Linked DNA regions of Homo sapiens: region 2 is linked to region 1. The links come from fine-mapping of genetic effects on gene expression. Tissue or cell type: whole blood. Region 1 holds a variant in brackets; the other region holds the start of a gene. All regions are shown on one strand. Distances are from middle to middle.

What was found. PIP is the estimated chance that this variant, and not a neighbour inherited with it, causes the effect.
Region 2: KANK3 starts here. The variant in region 1 is fine-mapped to the expression of KANK3 in whole blood (TOPMed, PIP above 0.99).

What each region holds. Positions count from the first base shown.
Region 1 is chr19:8,306,375-8,316,909 of GRCh38, forward strand. CD320 (CD320 molecule) reads right to left here and starts at 1,984. Exons shown (of 5, transcript NM_016579.4): 1 at 1,775-1,984. The coding sequence starts at 1,916. NDUFA7 (NADH:ubiquinone oxidoreductase subunit A7) reads right to left here. Exons shown (of 4, transcript NM_005001.5): 3 at 10,122-10,271; 4 at 4,910-5,221. The coding sequence ends at 5,131. RefSeq lists enhancers at 747-1,487, 1,474-1,603, 1,488-2,227, 2,283-2,812, 5,567-6,169 and 1 more and silencers at 1,684-1,773, 1,748-2,086. The variant A/G (reference allele first, on the strand shown) is at 4,180.
Region 2 is chr19:8,338,981-8,349,515 of GRCh38, forward strand. It overlaps KANK3 (KN motif and ankyrin repeat domains 3), which reads right to left and starts at 4,282. Exons shown (of 11, transcript NM_198471.3): 1 at 4,245-4,282. It also overlaps the pseudogene LOC100129682. RefSeq lists enhancers at 1,290-1,790, 3,725-4,516.

The DNA.
Region 1 (10,535 bases):
GCTGGGTCCAGAGAAGATCCCGGCTGTCCTAGATTCTGAGCAGGGAAGCTCAGCTGCTTGCCGACCTGGAGGGGCACGGAGGGGCCCGCAACCTGGGCCAAGGGACAGAGGAAGGGAGTGGCCTTTACGGCTTCCTCCTGGGTGCGGCCAGGGGAGGTGGCAAATCCGCCACCCTGGCTTAGCTTCACTCTGCCAAGGCCTTTAACCTCTTCCACCTTTACCCACCAGCCATGAGCCTCCAACCCCCCACTCCCCACTGCCAGCCCCTCCTCGGCCTTCAGGCCTAATTGCACCTACTTGCCACAGGGTCCCTGAGCTCTATGGATCCCAGAAGAGCTGTGGACAAACCGGTGCCTGCTTCCTTCCCCGCCCCCGGGAGATCTGGCAGCCTCCAGGTGTGGCTCTCCACCCAGGCGCAGACTTCCACAGCCCTGACACCTCTGACCTCCCTTCGCTGGACTGCGGGAGTGTGTATCCCTCTGCAAAGTGGACAGTAGAGCACAGCAGTCCCCGCCTCATAGGGTGTAAGCCTGACAGGAGTTACAGTGACCAGTGACTTTCTCTCCTGGCCTCAGTTTCCTCACCTGTAAACGGGGTATGCTGGGAATCCCTACCTCAACATCCTGAGAAAAAAGAGACTGTGTATAGAGTTTTGTCCTGTAATCCCAGCACTTTGGGAGGCTGAGGCGGACAGAACACTTGAGGTCAGGAGTTCGAGACCAGTCTGGCCAACATGGTGAAACCCCATCTCTACTAAAAATACAAAAATTAGCCGGGCATGGTGACGGTGCCTGTAGTCCCAAGCTACTCGGGAGGCTGAGGCATGAGAATTGCTTAAACCCGGGAGGCGGAGGGTGCAGTGAGCCAACATTGCACTGCACTCCAGCCAGGGCGACAGAGGGAGACTCAAAAAAAAAAAAACAAAAACTTTTGTACTTGGTTAACGTGAACGCTGCCTCCTTAAAAAAAAACAAACAAAAAAAAACCCAGGAACATTTAACGTGAATGTCAGGGACTTTGGGATGAGTCCAGGGACCTAGAAGTGCGGAATGCACAAAGGAGCTGGGAAAGTGTGTGAGCCTGAGCCCAGGGCTGCAAGTTGGGAGTGCCTGAGTGCACAGGGAGGCCACTCCAACCCTCCAGCTGCCTCTAGGGGTATCAGAGAGGGAGCCCGTCCCCACTGGCCACCAATACCTCTTAGGCCAGGGCGAACACGTCCACGGGGGTATATTCAACTTGTGACCCCAGTCTCTGCGAGAGCCTGCAGTAGCATGGGGGGGAGAGACCTCGCGTTCTCTAAGGATGGAGGACAAAGGAGGAGAGACTGGGAGGGCAGGGACGGTTGCGGAACGGTCACAAGGCCTGGGCGCGAGGGTTTGGAAGGCAAAGGTGCGAGAGGCACCAGGTGACCCGTCCTGCGTGATTAGCGGTCGGACAATCTGAGCCTGCTAAGAGCTTTCCTGACCACGCTGGTATGAAGGGCGGCTTGGAGGTGACAATGGGGGACGACAGGGCACAGCAGGTGTGGAGACGGTGTGCAGGGCCGGAGCAAAACCGTTAAAGGCAGGTGGAGACACCCTCCTCCCCTCCCCCAGCATGGGGTCTTCCTAGCACCAGTGCGCGCCTTCCCACAAGCGATGAAGTCCAAGTCCACGTGCTGGGGGAGTGTCATGAACTGACGTGCGGTGCAGCCAGTGACTAGGCGTTGTCGGTGCGCGGCGGCGGGGCGAAGCCTCGCGAGGGGTGGGAGCCCGCGCTGCGGGGCGTCACTCACCTGCGGCCTGGGCAGAGGTCGGGGTGGAAAGCGGGCTCGCGGCGGCCTCCAGGCCTAGTCCGAGGCCGAGCAGCAGCAGCAGCGCCAGGCCCAGAGCCCCTGTTCGCCACGCTCCAACCTGCGCCATCCAACCGCCGCTCATGCTGTCCCCACAGCGGCGCCGGCCACGCGCTGTCCAGACCGCTCTCTTATCCCTGCGCACGCGCACGCGCGGGGTTGGGGCGGGGCCCAAGCCCCTGAGTTCTGCGGCGCCCGCGGCTACGCGTACCGTAAATGTCAGAATAGCAGGGAAAAGAGAATTAGAGGCCCGTCCCCACTTTCCCCAGTGACCAGATCAGTTGAAAGGTATGGAGCCCGCTTGAAGTTAGAAACTTCTGGGGATGGGAAGGAATTTGTTGGTGTTCATTTGCATTATTTCCCGTTCCAAATGAGGACTGCTGCAAATGTTACTGCCTCGTGATCTTCTTTAATATGGCAGCCACGCCCCTCAGGCACTCCGCATTTCCTCCCTCATCCCACTGCTTTTGTGGCGCCGACAGGTAATTTATTTTATTTACTTATTCTGGTTTGTTGTCCGAGTCCCCATAGAATGCTAGCTACTGGAGGGCAGGGATCTTCTGTTGCTCACTGCTTTATTCTCAGGATCTGACACATAGTGCTTGACTCATAGTAGGCTCTTAGTAAACATTTGGTGAGTAAATGAATAAATGAAACGTCCATTCTCGGAGTCGGGTTGCTTGGGGGGGAAAAAGGAAAGGAAATCAATTAATTAATTAAATTTAATAATAAAGGCCGGGCGCGGTGGGTCACGTGTGTGATCCCAGCATTTTGGGAAGCAGAGGCGGGCAGATCGCTTGAGCCCAGGAGTTCGAGATCAGCCTGGGCAACACAGCAAGTCCCCGCCCGCCTCAAGAAAAAAGAAAATTAGCTGGGCATGGTGGCTCTAATTTGTAGTCCCAGCTACTCAGGAGGCTGAGGTGGGAGAATCACTTGGGGCTGCACTCCAGCGTGGGTGACAGTGAGACCCCATTTGTTAGAAAAGTTGGCCGGCGCGCTGGCTCACGCCTGTTAACCCCAGCACTTTGGGAGGCCGAGGCAGGCGGATCACGAGGTCAGGAGTTCTAAACCAGCCTGGCCAACATAGTAAAACTCCCGTCTCTACCAAAAATACAAAAATTAGCCGGGTGTGGTAACATGCTCCTGTAGTCCCAGCTACTAGGGAGGCTGAGATGGGAGAATCGCTTGAACCCGGGAGGCGGAGGTTGCAGTGCGCCGAGACCACATCATTGAACTCCAGCCTGGGTGACAGAGTGAGACTCTGTCTCAAAAAAAAAAAAAAGTTGTGGTCATAAAACTTGGTTCAGATGCCGTCAGCGGCATGCCTTGCCTAGGGTCTTGCCCTCCTTGTGGCCTCTGCACACCCTGCCTAGTCTTTCCTTCCCTCCTGACCTTTCTGAATCTGATTCATCCTTTTGCCCCAAGCAGAATCCCACCTTCTCCAGGAAGGTGTTAGCCTTTGTAGGACCCACTCTGGGACACTGGTACCTGCTGCCTGTAGCCGTGGCCTTTCCCCTTCCAGAGGGCAGGGCGGTCTCAGCACCCTCTTGGTCCACAGCTGATCTTTTTTAGCTGCTGAAGGGTCTGGGGCTGTGCCCTGGGGAAGCCATGACACTCCCCTGCGTAGGGTCACTGGGTGGCTCCTGCAGCCAGACTTGGACACCCTCCCTTTGCAGATTTCTGTCTCCTCCCCAGGAACCAGCTGCCTTCCTTCTGGGGCGAATTCATTCTTATCCCACAGCCCCAGCATAATGGGATCTGGCTCAGGGAGGCCTTTCCTGATCTGCCCTAGGTTTGCCTTCCCTGTGAGCAGCCCTTACTGTCCTCTGCCTTCCCCGTTGAGCTGCAGGGTGACCATGGTCAAGCAGGAGCCTCAGTGGGAAGGTGCTGAGGAAGGTTCATGTGAGAAGTGGCTGTGGGAGCCCTCAAGAGATGGAAGTTAGGCCAGGCGCGGTGGCTCACGCCTGTAATCCCAACACTTCGGGAGGCAGAGGTGGGCGGATCACTTGAGGTCAGGAGTTTGAGACCAGCCTGGCCAACATGGCGAAACCCCGTCTCTACTAAAAATACAAAAATTAGCTGGGCTTGTGGCAGGCGCCTGTAATCCCAGCTACTCGGGAGGCTGAGGCAAGAGAATCACTTGAACCCAGGAGGCAGAGGTTATAGTGAGCCGTGATCGCGCCATTGTACTCTAGCCTGGGCAACAAGAGCGAAACTCTGTCTCAAAAAAAAAAAAGAAGTGAGAAGTCTGTGGCTGGCCTACTGAGTGTCCGCACATACACCCCTTACCCCACCTGACTGGTCTTCACAATCAATGCTCCCCAACAGCCAGCGGTCCTGGGAGTCCA[A/G]CCTCCCAGAAGGATCACCCACTCCCACCACTCTCAAGGTCAGAGCCTGGCCTTTGGGGGAAAGGGCAGTGCTGTCTCCAGGGCCTCTGCACCCAGGGACAGTGTCTGTCCCACCCCTGGAGTGCCAACAGAGTTGGGAGACTCAGCACTGACTTCACCCCAAAATCCAAGTAAGCTGGGTATTGCTTAAAATCAGGGGCCAGGCGTGGTGGCTCACACCTGTAATCCCAACACTTTGGGAGGCCAAGGCGGGCGGATCACCTGAGGTCAGGAATTTGAGACCAGCCTGGCCATCTCTACAAAAAAAAAAAAAAATTAGCGGGTATGGTGGTGCACACCCGTAGTCCCAGCTACTCGGGAGGCTGAGGCAGAATTGCTTGAGCCCAGGAGGCAGAGGTTGCAGTGACCTGAGATCGTGCCGTTGCGTTCCAGCCTGGGTGACAAGCGCGAAAACTCTGGCTCCTGCAGCCAGATTTCTATCTCCTCCCCAGGAACCAGCTGCCTTCCTTCTGGAGCTAACTCATTCTCATCCCACAGCCCCAGCATAATGGTTTCTGGCTCAGGGAGGCCTTTCCTGATCTGCCCTAGGTCTGCCTTCCCTGTAAGCAGCCCTCACTGTCCTTTGCCTTCCCCGTTGAGCTACAGGGTGACCAAGGTCAAGCAGAGGCCTCAGTGGGAAGGTCTAAAAAATAAAAATAAAATCAGGCCAGGTGTGGTGGCTCATGCCTGTAATCCCAGCACTTTGGGAGGTCAAGGCAGGAGGATCGCTTGAGGCCAGGAGTTCAAGATCAGCCTGGGAAACATGGTGAGACTCTGTCTCTATTTTTTTATTTTTTAAAGTAAAACTAGAAGTGATACCTGAGCTCTACGTATTTGTCATAAATTAGGTCACATTCTCCCTGGAGGAAATCCAAGGAGGCAAAGTAGTCGGGTGGCCGTGAGGGTGCAGTGTCACAGGTAAGGCTGGTCCGAGGACAGCTCCCACCTCTTTATGGGAGGAGCTGGAGTCACCGCCTTCTTCTCAGTGGCAGCTACAGCAGAGCTGGAGGAGGGAAAGACTTCAGTGAGGGTTTCCAAAGAACAGTGTGGAAAGATCTGAGGGAGCCCACACCTGCCCCGGGACAAACACACCCACAGGGACTTTCTGGACCTGCAGGACAGACAGCAGGGTGTTCCAGAATGCCAACCCCTCCAACGCAGCCCCTCAGAGGATCAGCCAACGCCAGGTGGGAGCTAGCAAGCCTCCTCTCTCCCCTGAGCCCTGTATGAACCCCCTGCTGTGGCCCCCAGGCCCAGAACCCACTGTGGAGAGCTGGGCTCCTCCCTTCCCACTTTTGGTCTCCAGCGTACACAAGGCCCCCACCCCCATTCCTGCTGCCCCTCAAAACAGGATGCTGGCAAAAGGGCCAAGCGATCAGGTGACAATGGCCTCCAGCTATTCCTGCCTCAGACTGGGCAAGAACTGCATGGCAGGCGCTACTGTGTGGGCGCAGAGCCAGGAAGATGGGGCACCGCCCTCAGGAAGACTCAGGCTGGTGGGGCTGAGAATCCATGCGCAAATGGCAACTGCAAAACGCATCTCTGGCCCAGAGCTGGCCAAGAGGGAGCCCCCAGGAGACCCTGTGCCGGCAAGTCCAGGACGAGCACCCTCCCCTCTCACCCCACCCACCTGAGCCTGTGGAGCTCACACACTTCACAGCCTAAGCAAGAAAGGAAGCAGGAGGGTGGGGTGATGGAGGAGGCGCCCCAGGGGTGGAGGCACAGGACCTCCCAGGAGCCTCAAGGAAATGGAAAAGGCAGAAGTGGCCTCCCTGGGAAATGCACACATCTCTGGGGGCATGGCAAGGGGCTGTGTGGGAACAAGGTATCTTGCCACACTCTGGTGCTGGACTCCAGTGAATCAGAAGGTGACAACAAGGACCACTCCACTGAGTTCCTTCTTTTTGAGACAGACTCTTGCTCTGTCACCCAGGCTGGTGTGCAGTGGCACAATCTCAGTTCACTGCAACGTCCGCCTCCCAGGCTTGAGTGATTCTCTTGCCTCAGCCTCCCAAGTAACTGGGATTACAGGTGTGCACCATCACTCCCGGCTAATTTTTGTATTTTCTTTCTTGTTTATTATTTATGAGACAGGGTCTCACTTTGTCACCCAGGCTGGAGTGCAGTGGCGCAATCTCAGCTCAGTGAAGCTTCCTCGACCTCCCAGGTTCAAGAGATCCTTCTGCCTCAGCCCTTCAAGTAGCTGGGCCTACGGGTGCACACCACCACACCCGGCTAATTTTTGTATTTTTTGTAGAGATGGGGTTTCCCCATGCTGCTCAGGCTGGTCTTGAACTTCTGGGCTCAAGCGATCCACCCGCCTCGGCCTCCCAAAGTGCTGAGATTACAGGCGAGAGCCACAGCGCCCCTAACTTTTGTATTTCAGTAGAGGCAGGGTTTCGCCCTGTTGGCCAGGCTGGTGTCGATCTCCTGACCCCTAGTGATCCTCTCACCTCGGCCTCCCAAAGTGCTGGGATTACAGGCGTGAGCTACCATGCCCAGCCTAAAAAATTTCTAATAGAGACGGGGTCTCGCTGTGTTACTCAAACAAGTCTAGAACTCAAGCAATCCTCACACCTCAGCTTCCCGAGTCACTGGGATTACAGGCACACACCACTGCGCCTGGCCTATTCACAGAGTTCTTTTTTTTTTTTTTGAGACAGAGTCTCACTCTGTCACCCAGGCTGGAGTGCAGTGGCGCGATCTCAGTGAGCTGCAAGCTCCGCCTCCCGGGTTCACACCACTCTCCTGCCTCAGCCTCCCGAATAGCTGGGACTACAGGCGCCCACCACCACACCTGGCTAATTTTTTGTATTTTTAGTACAGACAGGGTTTCAACATGTTAGCCACGATGGTCTCGATCTCCTGACCTGGTGATCCGCCCTCCCCGGCCTCCCAAAGTGCTGGGATTACAGGCGTGAGCCACCGCGCCCAGACCTCACAGAGTTTTAAGTACAGAGCAGGCCCTGCCTGACCTCATCACCTCCCAGATCTCAGCACACTGCAAGTCTAGCATCCCTATTTTATATGTGAAGAAACCAAGGCTCAAGAAGGCTGAGGGACTGCCCACACCGTGAGTTGGCTGTAGAGCCCAGACCCCAACAGGAGTCCAGGAAAACTGGTTTGAAATCCTGCTTCTGCTTACTGCTGCCTGTGTGGCCCAGGCCAGTCACTTGGCTTCTGTGAGCCTCGATTTCCTCTTCTGCAAGAGGGGTCATCACCATCTAACTGGTGGAGTTATTAGGAGGTAGGCAGGACACTGACTCTGTGCCAGGCTCCAAGAGTTTACAAATATTAATTATGAGGACTAACCCTCGTAACAGCTTTCTGAAGTAGATGCTATTAGAGTCCCCATTTAATTAAGAGAAGACACCTGAAACCAGGGACCAAACTGCTTTTTGAGAGGAGCCCAAGGTTTATACACTTCTGTCTCTGAGAAGAATACATGGCTGGGCATGGTGGCTCACACCTGTAATTCCAGCACTTTGGGAGGCCGAGGCCAGAGGATCACATGAGGTCAGGAGTTCAAGACCGGCCTGACCAACATGGTGAAACCCCATCTCTACTAAAAATACAAAATTAGCCTGGCATGGTGGCATGCGCCTGTAATCCCAGCTACTTGGGAGGCTGAGGCAGGAGAATCACTTGATCCTAGGAGGTGGAGGTTGCAGTGAGCCGAAATCGCGCCACTGCACTCCAGCCTGTGCAATAAGAGTGAGACTGTCTCAAAATAAATAAATAAAATAAGAATTCATAATTATATCAACAGTAATGTCTCAGTTTCTCACAGGACCCTTGGAGGGACCCCGGACTTCATCTGTTTTGTAGGATGCAGAGTCCTGGCTGAGGCGCTAACTTCTACCCTCCCCTGGGTTGGACTAAATGAGCTCTTGCTGAGCATGGTGACTCTCACTTGTAGTCCCAGCTACTCGGGAGGCCAAGGCAGGAGGATCGCTTGAGCCCAGGAGTTTGAGAACGGCCTGGGCAACAAAGCAAGACCCCATCTCTACGAAACATTTAAAAATTAACCCAGCATGGAGGCCGGGCATGGTGGCTCACGCCTGTAATCCCAGCACTTTGGGAGGCCAACGCGGGCAGATCATGAGATCAGGAGATCAAGACCATCCTGGCTAACACGGTGAAACCCCGTCTCTACTAAAAATACAAAAACTTAGCCAGGTGTAGTGGTGGGCACTTGTAGTCCTAGCCACTAGGCAGGCTGAGGCAGGAGAATGGCGTGAACCCCTGGGAGGCAGAGCTTGCAGTGAGCCGAGATCACACCACTGCACTCCAGCCTGGTGTGGGGATAAGAAAGAGAAATCAGATTGTTAATGTGTCTGTGTAGAAAGTAGACATAAGAGACTCCATTTTAATCTGTAATCTTACCCCCAACCCTGTGCTCCCTGAGACATGTGCTATGTCAACTCAGAGTTAAATGGATTAAGGGCAGTGCAGGATGTGCTTTGTTAAACAGAAGCTGGAAGGCAGCATGCTCCTTAAGAGTCGTCACCACTCCCTAATCTCAAGTACCCAGGGACACAAAACACCACAGAAGGCCACAGGGTTCCCTGCCTAGGAAAGCCAGGCATTGTCCAAGGTTTCTCCCCATGTGATAGCCTGAGATGTGGCCTCGTGGGAAAGGAAAGACCTGACCGTCCCCCAGCCCGACACCGGTAAAGGGTCTGTGATGAGGAGGATTAGTAAAAGAGGAAGGAATGCCCTGTTGCAGTTGAGACAAGAGGAAGGCATCTGTCTCCTGCCCTTCCCTGGGCAATGGAATGTCTCGGTGTAAAACCCGATTGTATATTCCATCTACTGAGATAGGGGAAAACCGCCTTAGGCCTGAAGGTGGGACATGCGGGCAGCAATACTGCTCCTTAAGGCATTGAGATGTTTACGTGTATATGTATCTAAAGCACAGCACTTAATTCTTTACATTGTTTATGATGCAGAGACTTTTGTTCACGTGTTTACCTGCTGACCTTCTCTCCACTATTATCCTATGATCCTGCCACATCCCCCTCTCACACATCACACCCAATAATGATGAATAAATACTAAGGGAACTCAGAGGCCGGGTGGATCCTCCGTATGCTGAGCGCTGGTCCCCTGGTCACCCGATTTCTTTCTCTATACTTTGTCTGTGTCTCTTTCTTTTCCAAGTCTCTCATTCCACCTAACGAGGAACACCCACAGGTGTGGAGGGGCAACCCACCCCTTCAGCCTGGGCGACGCAGGGAGACTCCATCTCAAAACAAAAACAAAAACAAAAACAAAACAGGCCAGGCACGGTGGGTCACGCCTGTAATCCTAGCACTTTGGGAGGCCGAGTCGGGTGGATCACAAGGTCAGTTCAAGACCAGCCTGGCCAAGATGGTGAAACCCCGCCTCTACTGAAAATACAAAAATTAGCTGGGTGTAGTGGTGGGCACTTGTAACCCCAGCTACTTGAGAGGCTGAGGCAGAGAATCGCTTGAACCCGGGAGGTGGAGATTGCAGTGAGCCGAGATCACACCACTGCACTCCAGCCTGGGTGACAGAGTGAGACTCCGTCTCAAAAAAAAAAAAAAAAAAAAAATTGACCCAGCATGGTGGCACTAATCTGTAACACCAATTACTGGGGAGGCCAAGGAAGGAGGGGAGGATCACTTCAGCCTAGGCGTTCAAGGCTGCAGTGAGTGATGATTGCGCCATTGCACTTCATCCTGGGCAACAGAGCAAGACTCTGTCTCTAAAAACGAGTAAATGAGCTCTCGGACAAAAAGCTCCCAGCAGCACAGTTCCTGCGCAACTGATGCTTACTAAGTAGGATCTTGACAAGCACCCTTTCCACAAGTTGGGAGACAGAGTGGGTTGCAGGAGGGGGCATGGGGGCTGTGGTGAGCAGCGCTGGAGATCCTCACCTCTCTGCTGGCTTGCCTGACACCAGCGCCTTCTGCGACGACATGATGATGGAAGGGGGCACAGATTCCCGGCGGCCATCGCGAGTGCAATAGTAATTGTTGGAGAGCTTGTGGCTAGGACCCACAGGGAGCTTGGGAGGAGGCTGAGTTCTGAGGGGAAAAAAGATGAGCACTGAAGCAAAGAGACAGTCACTGTCATGGCCCCGCTGTGGGCCCCTGTCACCTCAGTCACAAAATGTGGGATCTACAGCCAGCCACTGGGATAAGCCACAGGCTGGGGGTGTCCCTTGGTACACTGGCAGGGACATATGCCTGGGGAGGGGTCCTGGGGCCAGAAGCAGATGGTGGACCCTGCTCTGGATGTGAAGATGCCACCCCCAGGGACCCCACCTGTCCCAAATGTGGAGGGTACAG
Region 2 (10,535 bases), 33 kb after region 1:
CACCAAAGATCCAAATCAACAAATCAACGGATACTTGTCTCCCTGGAATGTCGCTAGCGGAGTGTCACAGGCTTGATCCTTGGCTTGTAAGAGTTTGTAATGCAAACACAAAACACCTGGGTTGTCAGAGCTGTGACTATTCATGGGGCTGCCTGGGAAAGTGACTGTTTGGATGACATGATGGAGGCTGTAAGAAAGTGAGGAAGATTGGGCCACATATAATAATGTGATATTTAACAAGGACAAATATTGAATCCAGAACTTTGGTTCAAAAAGCACAGGGTGAAATCTCAGCACTCTGGGAAGCCAAAGCAGAAGGATCGCTTGAGCCTAGGAGTCAAGACCCACCTGCGCAACATAGCGAGACCCTATCTCTTTTTGTTTTTTTTTTTTTTTGAGACAGAATTTCCCTCTTGTTGCCCAGGCTAGAGTGCAGTGGCACAATCTTGGCTCACTGCAACCTCTGCCTCCTGGGTTCAAGTGATTCTCCTGCCTCAGCCTCCTGAGTAGCTGGGATTACAGCCACTGCTACTATACCTGGCTAATTTTTTGTATTTTTAGTAGAGATAGGGTTTCATCATGTTGGCCAGGCTGGTCTCGAACTCCTGACCTCAGGTGATCCACCCACCTCGGCATCCCAAAGTGCTGGGATTACAGGCATGAGCCAAGGTGCCTGGCCACTATCTCTTTTGTTTGTTTGTTTTTAAATAGTGAAACCACCAAGCACAGTGGCTCACAAGCCATTGCTCTCCAGCCTGGGCAACAAGAGCGAAGCTCTGTCTCTAAATAAATAAATAAAATAGCGAAACCCCATCTCTACAAAAAACACAAAAATTAGCTGGATGTGTTGGCATGCACCTGTAGTCCCAGCTACTCAAGAAGCTGAGGCAGGAGTATCTCTTGAGTCCAGGAGATGCAGGCTGCAGTGAGTTATGATCATGCCACTGCATTCCAGCCTGGTTGACAGAGCAAGACCTTGTCTCAAAAAAAAAAAAAAAAAAAAAGAAAAGAAAAGAAAAGAAAAGCACAGGAACATGGAGTGGGAAAGATGGGCTTTGGAAAGCCCACATGGAAAACCTTCAGGGAGGGGAAAGTGCCTACGGTGTGCCCTTCCTGATTAAATGTCATCGCCATAGCTGGACACAATGGTGCATGCCTGTAGTCCCAGCTACTCAGGAGGCTGAGGCAGGAGAATCGCTTGAACCTGGGAGGCAGAGGTTGCAGTGAGCTGAGATCATGCCACTGCACTCCAGCCTGGGGGACAGAGCCAGACTCCGTCTCAAAAAAAAAAAACCATATATATATATATATACACACACACACACACACACACACACACAGCCCCCATACAACACTTTGCATACTGCAAAGTAGTATTATTATTCATATTTTACAGATGGAGAAACTGAGGCACAGAACAATTAAATCAGTTGCCTGTGGGAAGCACCCTCAGATTGGGCTCTGCCCATCTGCGGAACCCTTGTCAGCAGGTCCCTGCCACAGCTTCTGACTGCCCTTTACCTGTCCAGTCCTCCACTGACAGGCATCTGCCAAACCCACTTCATCCTCTCCCTGGGCCACGGCCCGTCTGTGCTAACCACATGGCAACACTCCCAGCCACCCCTTCTGGCTTCTCGAATCCCTGGGACCACCTGTGTGCCTGATGCTATGAAGCACTGAGCACCCACCAGCCCTCCTGACTCATTACCCTACTCCACCGCTGGGGAAACCGTAACTCCATTTCCCACTTCTGTCTGGCCGAGGTCCCTGACCTCTCCCTTCCCACTCCAAGGCCAGGCAGGGGGCCTCTTCCAGTCCCCAAGCAGCTGTTTCCCGTCCCTTCACACCAGCTGCAAGGGGTGGATCAACAGGCCAGCGGGTCATCGCAGAGGACAGCCAATGCCGTTCATCACTTGTTTTCAGGAAATTGCCAGGGAAGAACTGGGTTGTGGAAAAAGTCCAGATCAAGGGTTGGGGGGTCTGGGTCTACTTCTCACACAGCTGGCCGTATGACGCAATGGGGTCAGCGTCCTCCTCCGGTGACCTGGTCACACCCAAATCCCAGGCCCTGGGATCTCAGAAGACAGCTGTGGGCCATTCCTAAGACCTAAACTAGCTGAAGCAGTTGGATCCAGAGGCTGGGCTAAGAAAGGAATGGATCCCTCCAGAATGTCAAATAATAACAACGCTTTTGATATTTACTATGGGCCAGCCTCTAGTCTAAGGAATTTATGGATATTTACTTTTTTTTTTTTTTTTTTTAGAGGCAATGTCTCGCTCACTCTGTCACCCAGGCTGGAGTCAGTGGCTCGATCATAGCTCACTGTGGCCTTGAACCCCTGAGCTCAAGTGATCCGCCTCAGCCTCACAAATAGCTGAGACTACAGGAATGGACCTCTACACCTGGCTAATTCAGGCTAATATTTTAAATTTTTTGGTTTTTTGTTTTAGATGGAGTCATGCTCTGTCGCCCAGGCTGGAGTGCAGTGGCACAATCTCAGCTCACTGCAATCTCCGCCTCCCGGGTTCAAGTGATTCTCCTGCCTCAGCCTCCCAAGCAGCTGGGATTACAGGTGTGCACCACCATGCCTGGCTAATTTTTGTATTTTTAGTAGAGACGGAGTTTCACCATGTTGGCCAGGCTGGTCTCAAACCAGGCGTGAGCCGTGCCCGGCCTAATTTTATTTTTTGTAGATACAGGTGTCTTGCTATATTGCCCAGGCTGGCCTCCAACTCCTGGGCTCAAGCAATCTTCCCAGTTCAGCCTCCCAGAGTGCTGGGATTACAAGCATGAGCTACTGCACCTGACCTTGACTTATTTTTTAAAATCCTAGCTAAATCCACTGAGGTTGGATTTCCTATGATCATTGTCCCTTCCCCTATTGTACAGATGGAGAAACTGAGACACAGAACAGTTTAGTGTCCTGCCTGGGTCCTGTCATAAACAGGCAGAGGCAGGTTTTAAACCCAGGCAGGTCTTCCAGAGTCCTTGCTTTGGCCACTACACTTGAATGCTTTCTTTTATTTTTATTTTTGAGACGGAGTCTCTGTCACCCAGGCTGGAGTGCAGTGGCAGGATCTCGGCTCACTGCAACCTCTGAGCCCAGGGTTCAAGCGACTCTCCTGCCTCAGCATCCTGAGTAGCTGGGATTACAGGCACTTGCCACCACAGCTGGCTAATTTTTGAATTTTTAGTAGAGACGGGTTTCATCATGTTGGTCAGTCTGGTCTCAAACTCCTGACCTCAAGAGATCAGCCCTACTTGACCTCCCAAAGTGCTGGGATAACAGGCATGAACCACCAAGGAGCCTCAGGGGGCTTGTCCCTCCCAGCCTACACCTGTGTCAGACTCTGATTGGGGGCGGAGGTGCCCACCACCTCTGCGGCTTCAGGGGCTGGGGCCTCACTAAGTGGGGCGTTTAGCTGCCTTCCCTCTCCTCCGCTCCCTGCCCTGACTGTCACAGCTAGATCCGGATTCTGTGCCTGAGACCCCCTCATTAGGCCGTCAGAGCCGACGCCACACGCCCCCTCTCCCGCCCCAGGGACTATTTTGGGACGCAGAGCTGTGATCACCAAACCGGAGTGGTGGGGGCCACGGCAGGCCAGTGAGGATCCCAGTCCTGGGGAGAGGGCGCCTTCCAGGAGGCCCTGAGTACTGGCAGCCCCTGATGTCTGCTGGGACTCTCAGACTCTTGAGGTGGGTGGGTGGGGGACCGGTGGCGGCAGGAAGGTGGGTGTTAAAGTCATCATCACCCGTCCACCCCCAGGTCGTCCTAGCCGCACAGAGACAGAGCAGTTTCCTACAGGAAGCGCCGCCGGGCGGTTCCATCCGCTACCCATTGTCTGCGGGTCCGGGGGCCGTGCGTCCCTCCCCAAAACACCATTTCCGTGACACGCTCCCACACCCAGCCCAGCGCGAGGGGCTGGCTGGGGTCCCCAGGCCGTCCCGGGAAAGGGTCCCAGGGCCGGTTGTGGCATTAGGGAGCGAACGAGCCCCGCAGTGAGCTCCCGAAGGGCGAGAGGGGGGCAAGCCCACGCCTCCAGAGCCCCCCACTCTGCTCGCTACCCACCTGGGACTTCCAATGTGGGAGGGGTCCCGGCCAGAGGACACGACGCCCGCCCCGTCGCAGCGGGCAGAGCCCTCAGTGGGGCTGGAAACGCAGCGCAGCGCCGGGTCCCGGTGCGTCCCCGAATCCACCCACCCAGGGGTCCCCCATCCGTGTCCCCGCAAGCTGGCAATTTACCTGAAGCCGCAGCCCCAGCCGCGCCCGCACCCGAGCCCGCCCCCTCGAAGTCCGGGGACTGATTATCAAGGCCTTCGCCCTAACTGACGGCCACGCCAGCCAACCAGCACCCGAGGCTCTCCAAGCCGCCCAGTGGGACGGTGGGGTGGGACAGGCAGGCGGGGCCTGGAATGTAGGGGTGGTGACTGAGGGCGGGCCCTGGAGTGACGGTCGCCGAGCGCTGGCTGGCGGCATTTCTGCACCAGCAGAGGTCAAGTCTCTGCCCAGCGCCGGGCCAAGGAGCTTGGATTTGATCCACAGGCACGAGGGAGCCATGGGAGAACTATGAGTAGAAGAGTAACCCGGTGGGATTTCTATAACTGGCACTTATTTCGCAGTGCCTGGGTGAAGTATCAGGTCCCGGATCTTCCCCACCGCAGGGCCTCTGCACATGCTGTTCCACCTACCTGAAATGCTTTCCCTTGCACCTGTACACGTAGGTACTTTTTGAGGCTCCCCTACTGTTTTTTGTTTTGTTTTGTTTTTGTTTTTTGAGACGGAGTCCCAGGCTGGAGTGCAGTGACACTCACTGCAACCTCCGCCTCCTGGGTTCAAGCAATTCTCCTGCCTCAGCCTCCCGAGTAGCTGGGATTACAGACACACACCACCACGTCCAGCTAATATTTGTATTTTTAGTAGAGATGGGGTTTCACCATGTTGGCCGGGCTGGTCTGGAACTCCTGACCTCAAGTGATCCGCCCGCCTCAGCCTCCCAAAGTGTTGGGATTACAGGCGTGAGCCACCGCGCCCGGCCTTCCCTACTTTCTGAGGTTCAGCTTTTGTGTTGCTGCCCCCTAAATTCCTGACATAGCCCCTCCCCAGTTAGTATTTTTCTCATCACTCTATTGTATTAACCTAATAGCTACTTTTACTATCTGGAAAAAAAAAAAAAAGCAGACTCTGTTATTGGCAGGCGCAGTGACTCACGCCTGTAAATCCAGTATTTAGGGAGGCATAGATGGGAGGATAGCTTGAGCCAGGAGTTGAGACCAGCCTGGGCAACATAGCAAGACCTAGTTCTCAAAACAAAAGAAAACAACAAAACAAAAAGACAAAAACGAAACACTCAGTTATTTATTTGGTTTATTTTTTAATTTAATTTAATTTTTTTTTAGACAGAGTCTCGCTCTGTCCCAGGCTGGAGTGCAGTGGTGCGATCTTGGCTCACTGCAACCTCTGCCTCCTGGGGTTCAAGCGATTCTCCTGCCTCAGCCTTCTAAGTAGCTGGGATTACAGGCGCACACCACCACGCCCAGCTAATTTTTGTATTTTTAGTAGAGACAGGGTTTCACCATGTTGCCCAGGCTGGTCTCGAACTCCTGACCTCAGGTGATCCGCCCACCTCAGCCTCCCAAAGTGCTGGGATTACAGGCGTGAGCCACCATGCCTGGCTGGTTATTTATTGGTTTACCTGCTTGCCATCTCACTAAAGTGTCGGCACCAAGGCCAGGTGGGGTGGCTCATGCCTGTAATCCTAGCACCTCCTGAGGCTGAGGTGGGAGGATCTTTTGAGCCCAGCAGCTCAAGACCAGCCTGGGCAACAGAGTGAGACTCTGTCTCTAAATTAAGTGTCAGCACCATGGGAACAGGAAACTGGTTTTGATAACTGCTTTATCCAGCGACCCTAGTACACAGTAGATGCTTAATAAATGTTTGCTGAAATAATGTTTTCTTTTTCTTTTTTGAGTCAGGGTCTCATTCTGTTGCCCAGGGTAGAGTGCTGTGGCACAATATCTCAGCTCACTACAAACTCCGCCTCCCAGGTTAAAGAGATCCTCCTGCCTCAGCCTCCCAAGTAGCTGGGATTACAAGTGTGTGCTACGCCTAGCTAATTTTTTTTATTTTTAGTAGAGACGGGCTTTTACTACTTTGCCCAGGCTGGTCTTCAACTCCTTGGCTCAAGCAATCCACCTGCCTTGGCCTCACAAAGTGCTGGGATCACAGGCATAAGCCACAGCACCTGGCCAGAATATAGTAATATTTTAAAATGTATTTTAACATCTGATACTTTTTAAAAAAAAACAAAATTCCTGGGCTATTTTAATTGGTTGATTCTTTCAGTTAAAACTGTGGAATTCTGTCGCGTTTCCCCACAGAAACTCCATTGGAATTTTCTTCTTTGTTCCTTTGAGACAAAGTTTACTCTGTTGCCGATGCTGGAGTTCTGTGGCAAGACCTATGGCTCACTGCAGCCTTGAACTCCCAGACTCAAGCAATCCTCCCACCTCAACCTCCCGAGTAGCTGGGACTACAGGCATGTGCTACCACGTCCAGCAGGTTTCTTATTTTTGTAAGGACAGGGTCTCTCTATGTTGCCCAGGCTGGTCGCAAATTCCTGGGTTCAAGTGATTCTCCTGCCTCAGCCTCCCTAAATAGTGGCATAACAGGCATGAGCCGCTGCACTTGGCCTCCATTGGAATGTTTAAAATATATGTGTGTGTGTGTGTGTGTATATATATATATATATATATATATATATATATATAATTTTTTTTTTTTTTTGAGACGGAGTCTTGCTCTGTCACCCAGGCTGGAGTACAGTGGTGTGATCTCCACTCACTGCAAGATCCGCCTCCCGGGTTCATGCCATTCTCCTGTCTCAGCCTCCCGAATAGCTGGGACTATAGGCACCCACCACCACACCTGGCTGTTTTTGTATTTTTAGTAGAGACGGGGTTTCACCGTGTTAGCCAGGATGGTCTTGATCTCCTGACCTCGTGATCTGCCTGCCTCAGCCTCCCAAAGTGCTGGGATTACAGGCGTGAGCCACCGCACCCAGCCCTAAAATATTTTTATTGTGGCCGGGTGCGGTGGCTCACGCCTGTAATCCCAGCACTTTGGGAGGCCAGGGCAGGCAGATCACCTGATATCGGGAGTTCGAGACCAGCCTGACCAACATGGAGAAACTCCGTCTCTACTAAAAACACAAAATTATCCCAGTGTAGTGGTGCATGCCTGTAATCACAGCTACTTGGGAGGCTGAGGCAGGAGAATCACTTGAACCTGGGAGGCAGAGGTTGCAGTGAGCCGAGAGTGAGCCATTGCATTCCAGCCTGGGCAACGAGAGTGAAACTCTGTCTCAAAAAAAAAAAAAAAAAAAAAAAAATATATATATATATATATATATATATATATATATATATATAGTTGTAAAATAAAGCGTCCATAGATGCACACACACAGCAGATTCAAGAAACCACATAAAACAAATGTATACTCTTTCCCTAAGTGGCCTGAGGTAATCTGGGAAAATGGTTCGCTATTTACTTGACCCAGAGAACCCCACAAAATCATGCAAATCAAGAGGTTCAAATCTTCATGTTCACTTGGAGAACACTCATGAAACTGCCCAGGCCATCAAGGGTATGTATATATGAAAATCCACGAAGTATCTGAAAGATGTCACTTTACAGAAACTGTGTGTACCATTCCAACATTACAATGGTGGAGTTGGCAGGTGTGCCCAGGCCAAGCAGTGGGGCTGGACACAAAGTCAGTGGCCCAGAAAAAGTGCTGAATTTTTGCTGTACATGCTTAAAAATGCAGAGAGTGGCCGGGCATGGTGGCTCACACGTGTAATCCCAGCACTTTGGGAGGCTGAGGTGGGCGGATCACCTGAGGTCAGGAGTTCGAGACCAGCCTGGCCAACACGGTGAAACCCCATCTCTACTAAAAATACAAAAATTAGCTGGGTGTGGTGGCACGTGCCTGTAGTCCCAGCTACCAGGGAGGCTGAGGCAGGAGAATTGCTTGAACCCGGGAGGCGGAGGTTGCAAAGCCGAGATTGTGCCACTGCACTCCATCCTGGGCAGTAGAGCGAGACTCCGTCTCAAAAAAAAAAAAAATGCAGAGAGTAATGCTGAACTTAAGGGTTATATGTAGATTCTCTGGTCATTGAGCATATCCAAGTGAACAAAGTACCTAAGATGCGTCGCCAGACCTACGGAACTCCGGTCGGATTAACCCATGAATGAGTTCTCCCTGCCACACTGAGATGATTCTTACTGAAAAGGAACAGATTTTTCCTAAGCCAGAGGAGGAGGTTGCCCAAAAGAAAAAGATATCCCAAGGCCGGGCGCAGTGGCTCACGCCTGTAATCCCAGCATTTTGGGAGGCCGAGGCGGGTGGATCACCTGAGGTCGGGAGGTCGAGACCAGCCTGACCAACATGGAGAAACCCCATTTCTACTTAAAATATAAAATTAGCCGAGCGTGGTGGCGCATGCATGTAATCCCAGCTACTCAGGAGGAGGCTGAGGCAGGAGAATCATTTGAACCCGGGTGGCAGAGGTTGCGGTGAGCCGAGATCGCACCATCGCACTCCAGCCTGAGCAACAAGAGTGAAACTCCATCTCGGAAAAAAAAAAAAGAAAGAAAAAGATATCCCAGAAGAAACTGAAGAAACAAAAACTTATGGCATGGGAGTAAATTCAGCATTAAAATAAATGCAATTAAAAGTAAAAAACAAAAACAAAAAACAAAACAAAACCAACAACAACAACAAAAAACCCCACAAATGTATAGTTTAAGGAGTTCCTCCAGGGGGTAGTTCTCAACCAGGAGTGATTTTGCCCCATGGGAGAATGTTTGACAATATCCAGGAGCACTTTTGGGTAATGAGGAGGCGGGTGTTTTTGGCCTCTAGAGGGCGGAGGCCAGGAATGTAGCTAACCACCCTGCAATGCACAGGCCATCCCCAAGGACCAAGAATTATGTGGCCTGAATGTCAAGAGTGCTAAGTTTCAGAAACCCAGTGCTGAGATGAAGGTCATCGTCGCCTCCACCCGGGCCAACCAACTGCACTTGCCAGCTACCCCAGAAGCGCCTCCGTGGACTATGTCCTAGTCACAGCTGCCCCTCACTCCCTAAGTAACCACTGTTTTGTGACTTTTATTTATTTGTTTGTTTATTTATTTATTTATTTTTGAGACAGAATCTCGCTCTGTTGCCCAGGCTGGAGTGCAGTGGCATGATCTCAGCTCACTGCAGTCTCCTGGGTTCAAATGATTCTCCTGCCTCAGCCTCCTGAGTAGTTGAGATTACAGGTGCCCGCTACCATGACCAGATTTTTTGTATTTTTAGTAGAGATGGGGTTTCACCATGTTGACCATGCTGGTCTTGAGCTCCTGGCTTCAGGTGATCCACCTGCCTCGGCCTCCCAAAGTGCTGGGATTACAGGCATGAGCCAACACGCCCGGCCCTGTGTAGGTTTCTGTTTGTTTGCTTATTTATTTATTTCGAGACAGAGTCTCACTGTATTGTTCAGGCTGGAGTGCAGTGGTGCAATCAATGCTCACTGCAGCCTGGAACTCCTGGGCTCAAATGATCCTTAGCCTCCTGAGTAGCTGGGAGACAGGTGAGCGCCACTGCACATGTATAGTTTTATTATCCAAATGTGAATCTGTAGACACTGGAGTTTAGTCTTGCCCATTCAAAAAGAAAATGATATGTCTTTTAAGCTCCCCCTGCCCGTTTTTTTTTTTTTTTTTTTGAGACGGAGTCTTGCTCTGTTACCAGGTTAGAGTGCAGTGGCGTGATCTTGGCTCACTGCAACCTCCATCTCCCAGGTTCAACCGATTCCCCTGCCTCAGCCTCCAGAGCAGCTGGGACTACAGGCACAAGCCACCATGCCCAGCTAATTTTTTGTATTTTAGTAGAGATGGGGTTTCACCATGTTGGTCAGGATGGTCTCGATCTCCTGACCTTGTGATCGACCAGCCTCAGCCTCCCATAGTGTTGGGATTACTGGCACGAGCCACCGCGCCCGGCCTAAGCCTGTTTATTTATTTATTTATTTATTTTTAATTTTATTTTTTTGAGATGCAGTTTCACTCTTGTTGCCCAGGCTGGAGTCCAGTGGTGCAATCTTGGCTCACTGCAACCTCTGCCTCTTAGATTCAAGCGATTCTCCTGCCTCAGCCTCCTGAGTAGCTGGGATTACAGGCATGCGCCACCACGTCCGGCTAATTTTTGTATTTTTAGTAGAGATGGAGTTTCTCCATGTTGGCCAGGCTGGTCTGGAACTCCCGATCTCAGGTGATCTGCCCACCTGGGACTCCCAAAGTGCTGGGATTACAGGTGTGAGCCACCGCGCCCGGCCTAAGCCTCTTTTAATTCACAGGTTCCTCTCCATCCCTCCCTTTCCCTTACAATAGAAGCATTGCATGCCTGGGCATGGTGCCTCACACCTGTAATCCCAGCACTTTGGGAGGCCGAGGCAGCAGGAACGGTTGAGCCCAGGAGTTCGAGATTA